2 linked regions of the Homo sapiens genome follow. The protein of the gene in region 1 purifies or fractionates together with the protein of each later gene. This does not show direct contact. Each region holds a gene or a part of one and is shown in the gene's direction. Other genes may lie near its edges. The genes, in order: SIPA1L3 and SPIN2A.

Region 1 (3,817 bases):
CATTGCAGTTGTTAGGTGGTAAATCAAAAGTGGAATTTAGAATGTGCAGTGATTGGTGCCTCATTTTTTTGCTGTAAAATATATTTTACTGATATATTTCAAACATAGTCTTAGTAACTTGTAAAATGTAAATTAAATGTATTTACATTTTAATAAAAGAATTCAATAATCATTTCCTTTAAAATAAAGTGTTTGTTTTTAGCTATTAGAATGAGAGGCTATTTGGCAGGGTGCAGTGGCTCATGCCTGTAATCCCAGCACTTTGGAGGCTGAGGTGGGTGGATCACTTGAGCCCAGGAGTTTGAGAGCAGCCTGGGCAACATGGCGAAACCCCATCTCTACAAAAAATTAGTCAGGTGTGGTGGCACACATCTCTAGTCCCAGCTACCCGGGATGTTGAGGCTGTAGTGAGCTGTGATTGCAGCATTGCACTCCAGCCTGTGTGACAGAGTGAGACCCTGTCTCAGAAAAAAAAAAAAAAAAAGAATGAGAGGCTGTTGTACCAGTTTGTGCATTTGTGTATTCTTCAAGACTGATATTGCTTCCTTTTTGTTGTTTTTAGACAGAGTCTTGCTCTGTGGCCCAGGCTGGAGTGCAGTGGCACGATCTCAGCTCACTGCAACTTCCACCTCCTAGGTTCAAGCGATTCTCCTGCCTCAGCCTCCTGAGTATCTGGGATTACAGGCATATGCCACCATGCCTGGCTAATTTTTGTATTTTTAGTAGAGATGGGGTTTCGCCATGTTGGCCTCGAACTCTTGACCTCAGGTGATCCACCCACCTTGGCCTCCCAAAGTGTTGAGATTACAGGCGTGAGCCACCGTGCCTGGCCTATTGCTTCCTTTTTTTAAGGACTATTTTGGTCATGACCTTTTGTGCGTGTGTGTATGTATGTGATTGGGTTGAATTTAGCTTAAAAAAAGTTATGCAAGAAATTCATGCTTGTTGTAACGTGTCAAACAATACAGAGGTGTAGGGAAAATACCTAGTGCCACCCTCCACTCCAAAACCCCATGTCGCCAGAGATAACCATTTATTCAGACAGTGAGTATCTATTAAGTATCTATTGCTAGGCTTTGGAGATAGCATAATGAACAAAATGGATGTGCTCTCTGCCCTTGTGATTTGGACAGATGCTTCAGTTATCTTTTTCTGTGTTTATATTGATTATGTTTGTATGTATGTGCGTGTGTGTGTGTGTGTGTGTATCGACTGTTTTCTTCCTCCTCCCATACCATTCCCCAAAAAAGGAGGGGGTAGGGATCAAGCTACACCTATTTGTAACCCAGTTTTTTCAATTAATGGCTGGGCATGTCCTTCCAAGTCATTACATATAGATCTGGCTTATCCTTTTCAACAGCTGTACCCACATTCTTCAGTGCAGAGAGACCACGCTTTATTCCAGCATTCCCCCACTGCTGGTCCTTTAGGTTGTTCCTCTGAGATGTCTTTTTTTTTTTTTTGAGACGGAGTCTTGCTCTATCGCCCAGGCTGGAGTGCAGTGGCGCAATCTCAGCTCACTGCAAGCTCCGCCTCCTGGGTTCACGCCGTTCTCCTCTGCCTCAGCCTCTCCGAGTAGCTGGGACTACAGGCGCCCGCCACCACGCCCGGCTAATTTTTTGTATTTTTAGTAGAGATGGGGTTTCACCGTGGTCTCGATCTCCTGACCTCGTGATCCGCCCACCTCAGCCTCCCAAAGTGCTGGGATTACAAGCGTGAGCCACCGCGCCTGGCCCCTCTGAGATTTCTTTACCTCAGCAAACACACATCTAATAAGTATCCTTGGTGGTGGCTCAGGAGATCGAGACCATCCTGGCTAACACAGTGAAACCCCGTCTCTACTAAAAAATACAAAAAAATTAGCCAGGCGTGGTGGCCGGTGCCTGTAGTCCCAGCTGCTCAGGAGGCTGAGGCAGGAGAATGGCGTGAACCTGGGAGGCAGAGCTTGCAGTGAGCCAAGATTGTGCCACTGCACTCCAGCCTGGGCGACAGAGCGAGACTCCATCTATAAAAAAAAGAAAAAATTAGCAGGGTGTGATGATGAGAGCCTGTAATCCCAGCTACTTGGGAGGCTGAGGCAGGAGAATTGCTTGAACCAGGGAGGTGGAGGGTGCAGTGAGCCGAGATTGTACCACTGCACTCTAGCCTGAGTGACAAGAGTGACACTCTGTCTCAAAAAAAAAAAAGTATAAAAAGTATCCTTTCACATAGGCAGCATGGCCCAGTGGCTGAAGCACAAACTCTGGGGCCACATGGTCTGGGTTCACACTGTGACTCTATCCTATATTAGTTGTGATACCTTGGGCAAATCATGTGTCCTTCTGAGCCTTAGTGTCCTGATCTGAAAATGGGGATGATACCAGTGTCTTCCTTATAGGGTGGTTGTTGAGAGGTTTCATAAGATTATCTATGTCAAGCCTTCAGGGCAGGGCCAGCTGTGATCTTTTTTTTAGAGACAGGGTCACTCTGTTGCCCACGCTGGAGTGCAGTGGCGTCATCATAGCTCACTGTAACCTTGAACTCCTGGGCTCAAGTGATCCTCCCACCTCAGACTCCCTAGTAGCTGGGGCTACAGGTGTGCACCACCACACCCAGCTAATTTTTAAATTTTTGTAGAGATAGGGTCTCACACTATGTTGCCTAGACTGGTCTCGAAGTCCTGGCCTCAAATGATCCTCCCGCCTCAGCCTACATGTGTTCTTTCAAACCCAGAGAAATTCACAGGAAGAGCCAACTCAATCACTTGAAACACCAGGTAGAAATAAGAAAAAGTTATATTGCAGGGATCCCGCTTGGAGATGTTGGGGGCCTAAGGTGAGGGATCCAGCTGCCGCTGAAAGAAGGGAGGAGATTTGCCCAGGAAGACAGGAGCCAGTAAAGTGCCCTGACCACAGTGGGTGGTGGGGGTGAGGGGCTGGTGGTGGAGCATCAGTGGGAAATATCACTCCTCATATTTGCGAGAAGTGTGCCATGGTTGGAAGGTGGCTTAGGTGGCGGGCAGACCAAGTTCAAATCACAGTATAGCCACTAACTTGTAAGATGTGCACTGAGCTTTTTTCTTCATTGGCAAAATGGGTATGATAGTAGTCTTTACCTCGGGGGTCGCTGGAGACTGAATGAAATGTCTGCAAGACTTTCAGCACATTAGGCTGTCATTAGCCCTGTGCAGTTAGCTACTATTCTTATTTTATTGAGTTGACAGATGTGTTGAGACCCTGCTGTGAGCCAGGGTCCTATCCTAGGCACTGAGGATTCAGCAGTCAACAAGACAGACAAGATCCTTGCTGTCCTAGGGTTTACATTCTAGCCATTCTAGCCCGGGAAGACACACAATAAACAGGATCATTTCACTTTGTGTTTTTGAGATGGAGTCTCGCTGTCACCCAGGCTGGCACAATCTCAGCTCACTGCAACCACTGCCTCCCAAGTTCAAGCCCATCTCCTGCCTCAGGCTCCTGAGTAACTGGGATTACAGGCATGCGCCACTATGCCCTGCTGATTTTTGTATTTTTAGTAGAGGAGGGGTTTTGCCATGTTAGCCAGGCTGGTCTTGAACTCCTGACCTCAGGTGATCTGCCTACCTTGGCCTTGTACAGTGCTGGGATTACAGGCGTGAGCCACTGTGCCCAGCCTTTTCTTTCTTTTTTTTTTTTTTAATTAAAAAAAATCCTGGCTGGGCACAGCGGCTCACGCCTGTGATCACAGCACTTTGGGAGGCTGAGGCGGGCAGATCACGAGGTCAGGAGATCGAGACCATCCTGGCTAACAAGGTGAAACCCCGTCTCTACTAAAAATACAAAAATTAGCCAGGTGTGGT
Region 2 (4,065 bases), on another chromosome or scaffold:
CAACTCAATAGTAAAAAATCAAATAATCTGATTTAAAAATGGGCAAAAGAGCTGAGTAGACATTTCTCAAACTAAGACGCACAAATGGACAACAGATATATAAAAAGTATTCTAAATCGCTAATCATCAGGTAATTGTATATCAAAATAGCAATGAGATATCATCTTACCCCAGTTAAAATGGCTATTATCAAAAAGACAGAAAATAAAAACTGCTGGTAAGGAAGTGAAGAAAGAGGTATCCTTGTAAATTGCTCGTGGGGATATAAATTAGCATAGCCATTATGAAAAACAGCGTGGTAGTTCCTCCAAAAACTAAAACTACAAATTCCCTAAGATCCAGCAATCTCACTATTGGGTATATATCCAAAAGAAAGGAAATCAGCATATCAACGAGCTATCTGCACTCACATATTTATTTGCAGCACTGATCACAATAGACAAGATATGGAATCAACTTAACTGTCCATCAATAAATAAATGGATAAAAAATGTGATATATATATATATATAATAAAATATTATTCCACCATAGATTAAGATTAACCTAACACTTATTTAACTTTTCAGATGTTAGCCAACATATTGTTTTTATTGTACACCCATTTGGTTTGTTGTCCTACAACATGTAACTGAAAACATCTTACTTGATATAGCAATCTAATATTGTTGATTATTTTCAGAATTATAGGATACTGTGAAAAACTGTAACTCACAAAAAAACACACAAAAATTAAAAATGACTTCACTTTATGCGAAATAGATAAGGTTTGTTAAGTATTGTAATCACATTCAAAAATAACTCTTTAAGCTTAAAATAAGCCAATACTTCTTCAAAGCAAGGTCTCCAAATCTAAAATATGCCTACATAATGCTTTGGAGAAACACTTAATGTATGTATTCGTGAGTGTGTATGCATATACAGAGAATTATATCTGTGAGTTATGTGATTGGATAGAGGTGTGTATTTGGAATTAAGAATCTATGGATAGGAATTTCTGGAACTGTACACAGAATTCATAGTTTTATACATGTGCATGTGCTTGGAGATATATATATATATACATACATACACATTTGCATATGGTCGTAAAGGATTCATGTCTCCATAAATGTATACACATGGTATTTCTATGTTAATTTGTATGTTTCCAAAGAATGTGAGAAATGTCTGAAAGATGGAAAACAGATGGAGCAAGAGAGCTGAGGGGAGGGGCTAGAGAGCTTGAAGGATCCAGCCAGCAGAGACAGGAAGAGAGAAAAGGCCACCTACAGGTTCCACTGTTGTGAATTGTGGAAAGGGAAGGAGGAGCCCAGGAGGGGCCCCAAGAAAAGAAAGGCAGATCTGCTCTGTGATTAGAATGGAAGACATCACTACTAAGAGGAAACTAACACTGTAGTCTTGTGCAGAAAAAGGGCAGAGACTACAGCCACTGCATCAGGGACTGGTGGCAGCCCAACGTGGCTGAGGGGTGGCCGCCACCAACAGGGAGGTAGACGGCCAGCGAGCGAAGCGCTGGGGACACCGCTGCAGTGCTCTTTGCCTGTCTCGCCGCGCTCCTACACACGCTCCTCATCTATGGATCCTACCCTCCCCGCTCTTGCAAGCAGTCACTCAGCGAGTCGCCTGTTGACCCTCCTTCGCCACAGGCTCACAGCAGAGGCAGCATCGAGGTATCCGATTTCGGCACGTGAGGCCCGCGATCCCCGGCGGTGGACGCCAGGCAGGGCAAGGCCATTAGTGGGCGCCAGAATGGAGAGGGGGATGGGAAGGAATCCAGCAGGAGACATGGGGTGGAGTTGGGCGCCAGGCAAGGGTGGGGTGGGGGAGTGCGGTGGACGACAGGGAAAGGGGGTAGGAATAGGAGCCAGACAAGGATTTGAAGGTGAGCGCCAGGAAGCAAGGGAGGTAGGTAACAGGGAAGTGGTTAGGATAGGCAGTGGGGGTTACAGACAGCACCAGAGGCACTCAGGGCAGGAGGGTAGTGGGTGCTGGTCAAGGCCGCTTTGCAGGGGATTGGGAGTGGATGCTAGTGGCAGTAAAGGGTAAAGGGAGGGCAGTGGGCTCTGAGCTAGGAGGAGGTGGCCCAGCCACTTCTGCAGAGTTCCTAACCCCAGACAGCTCTACTGCACCACCCCAGCCCTTCCCCACAGCCCAAAGGAACTTAAGAGGGAGAGCACTGCGGGCATGCAGCCAGGATTTCCAGCATTGCTTCCAGGCTCCTAGGGGAAACTTAGGCACTAGCGCAGACTACATCCAGACATGGCTATAGGGAAAAGTTTGCCTTGTGGCACACTGGGTGTGTCTCTCTATCCTCTCTCCTCCCCCAGCAGGCATGAAGACCCCCAACGCACAGGAAGCCGAAGGGCAACAAACCAGGGCAGCTGCAGGACGGGCCACTGGGTCTGCAAACATGACAAAGAAAAAAGTCTCCCAAAAGAAGCAGAGAGGCCGACCTTCATCCCAGCCCCGCAGGAACATCGTGGGCTGCAGAATTTCTCATGGATGGAAGGAAGGAGATGAGCCCATCACGCAGTGGAAAGGAACCGTTCTGGATCAGGTGCCTATAAATCCCTCTCTTTATCTGGTGAAATATGATGGAATTGACTGTGTCTATGGACTGGAACTTCACAGAGATGAAAGGGTTTTGTCTCTTAAAATTCTTTCTGACAGGGTGGCATCATCTCACATTAGTGATGCCAACCTTGCAAATACCATAATTGGCAAAGCAGTGGAACACATGTTTGAGGGAGAGCATGGTTCTAAGGATGAATGGAGGGGGATGGTCTTAGCTCAAGCACCTATCATGAAAGCCTGGTTTTATATTACCTATGAGAAAGATCCTGTCTTGTACATGTACCAGCTTCTAGATGATTATAAGGAAGGTGACCTCCGCATCATGCCAGAATCCAGTGAGTCTCCTCCAACAGAGAGGGAGCCAGGAGGAGTTGTAGATGGCCTAATAGGTAAGCATGTGGAATATACCAAAGAAGATGGCTCCAAAAGGATCGGCATGGTCATTCACCAAGTGGAAACCAAACCCTCTGTGTATTTCATCAAGTTTGATGATGATTTCCATATCTATGTCTACGATTTGGTGAAAAAGTCCTAACTGTTAGGGTAAAATTTGGCACATGTGTGGAAACAAATGTATAATTTGTAGACATGCAAAAAATGTTGCCTTTCAGTGTACTGAAAGCTTATGGAATCCCTGATAACTAAACATCTTTGCCAGCATTAACTGTTGTTTTGCTCTAAAAAATACAAATTTGTGAATACATGACATGCTGTCTGTAAGCCCTTTGTCTTGTTGAAAAGTTCGGGTGTGTTTGGTAGATGGGGCATGGAAGGAACGAACAGCTGTCAATTTCGGCTGTGAATAAAGTTCAGCTAGAATCATAATCAGTCATTTAAAAATGGCACTGGATTTAGCTGGTCTGGTCTGGAGGGGGCAGGGGAAGGAACAAGAGATTGGCTGTCTTGGGGAGAGAGGAGGAGGTGACTGCTTAGGAAGAGGTGGAAAAGGGCCAGAAAGGGAGGGGCTCCTTGGGGGAGGGGATGACCTATGAGAAGGAAACATCCAACTCAGAAGGAAGACTAACAGAGGGAGAGTGAGATCTTGGGGCTTAGAGGAAAATAGAATAAACTGAGTAGAGAGGAACACAAAGAAGCTTAGAAGAGGGTCCAGAGTAAGGTGGAGAAGGATCAACCTGACAGGGATCTGGGAGAGGCTAAAGGATACACAAAGGAAGAGGCTATGTGGGTTAGGGTGTTGGAGGGATTAGAAGAGGGCCACTGAGGAAGGAGGAATTCAAAGAAGAAAGACTGACAGAGGGAGTGAGAATACAGGAAAAGAGTTGTGGGGTATGGGGCCCATGAGAGATCGGAAGGCCCAGGAAAATGTTGGACTTCTGGTAGTGTCCACATTGCTCTTCCTGGCTCTATGCACAAAGGAAGTGGCAACTGTCAAAGATGCCAGATGCATTGGAGGTTCACTAGAAGAGCATGTTGACAGGAATGACTCAGTCAAGTTAATCAGGAGCCAAGTTTATGCCCATAAGGCTT

What was found.
Region 2: the proteins of SIPA1L3 (region 1) and SPIN2A purify together in Homo sapiens (affinity purification with mass spectrometry; one large-scale study listed by BioGRID and IntAct). This does not show direct contact.

Annotation. Positions count from the first base shown.
Region 1 is NC_000019.10:37,910,064-37,913,880, forward strand, and holds part of SIPA1L3 (signal-induced proliferation-associated 1-like protein 3), read left to right. Parts: intron 1-3,817. UniProt on the Homo sapiens protein: Plays a critical role in epithelial cell morphogenesis, polarity, adhesion and cytoskeletal organization in the lens.
Region 2 is NC_000023.11:57,134,868-57,138,932, reverse strand, and holds SPIN2A (spindlin-2A), read left to right. Parts: upstream 1-1,535; 5' UTR 1,536-1,673; exon of another isoform or gene 1,674-1,728; intron 1,729-1,791; exon of another isoform or gene 1,792-1,885; intron 1,886-2,056; exon of another isoform or gene 2,057-2,330; 5' UTR 2,331-2,335; coding exon 2,336-3,112; 3' UTR 3,113-3,283; downstream 3,284-4,065. UniProt on the Homo sapiens protein: May be involved in the regulation of cell cycle progression. Exhibits H3K4me3-binding activity.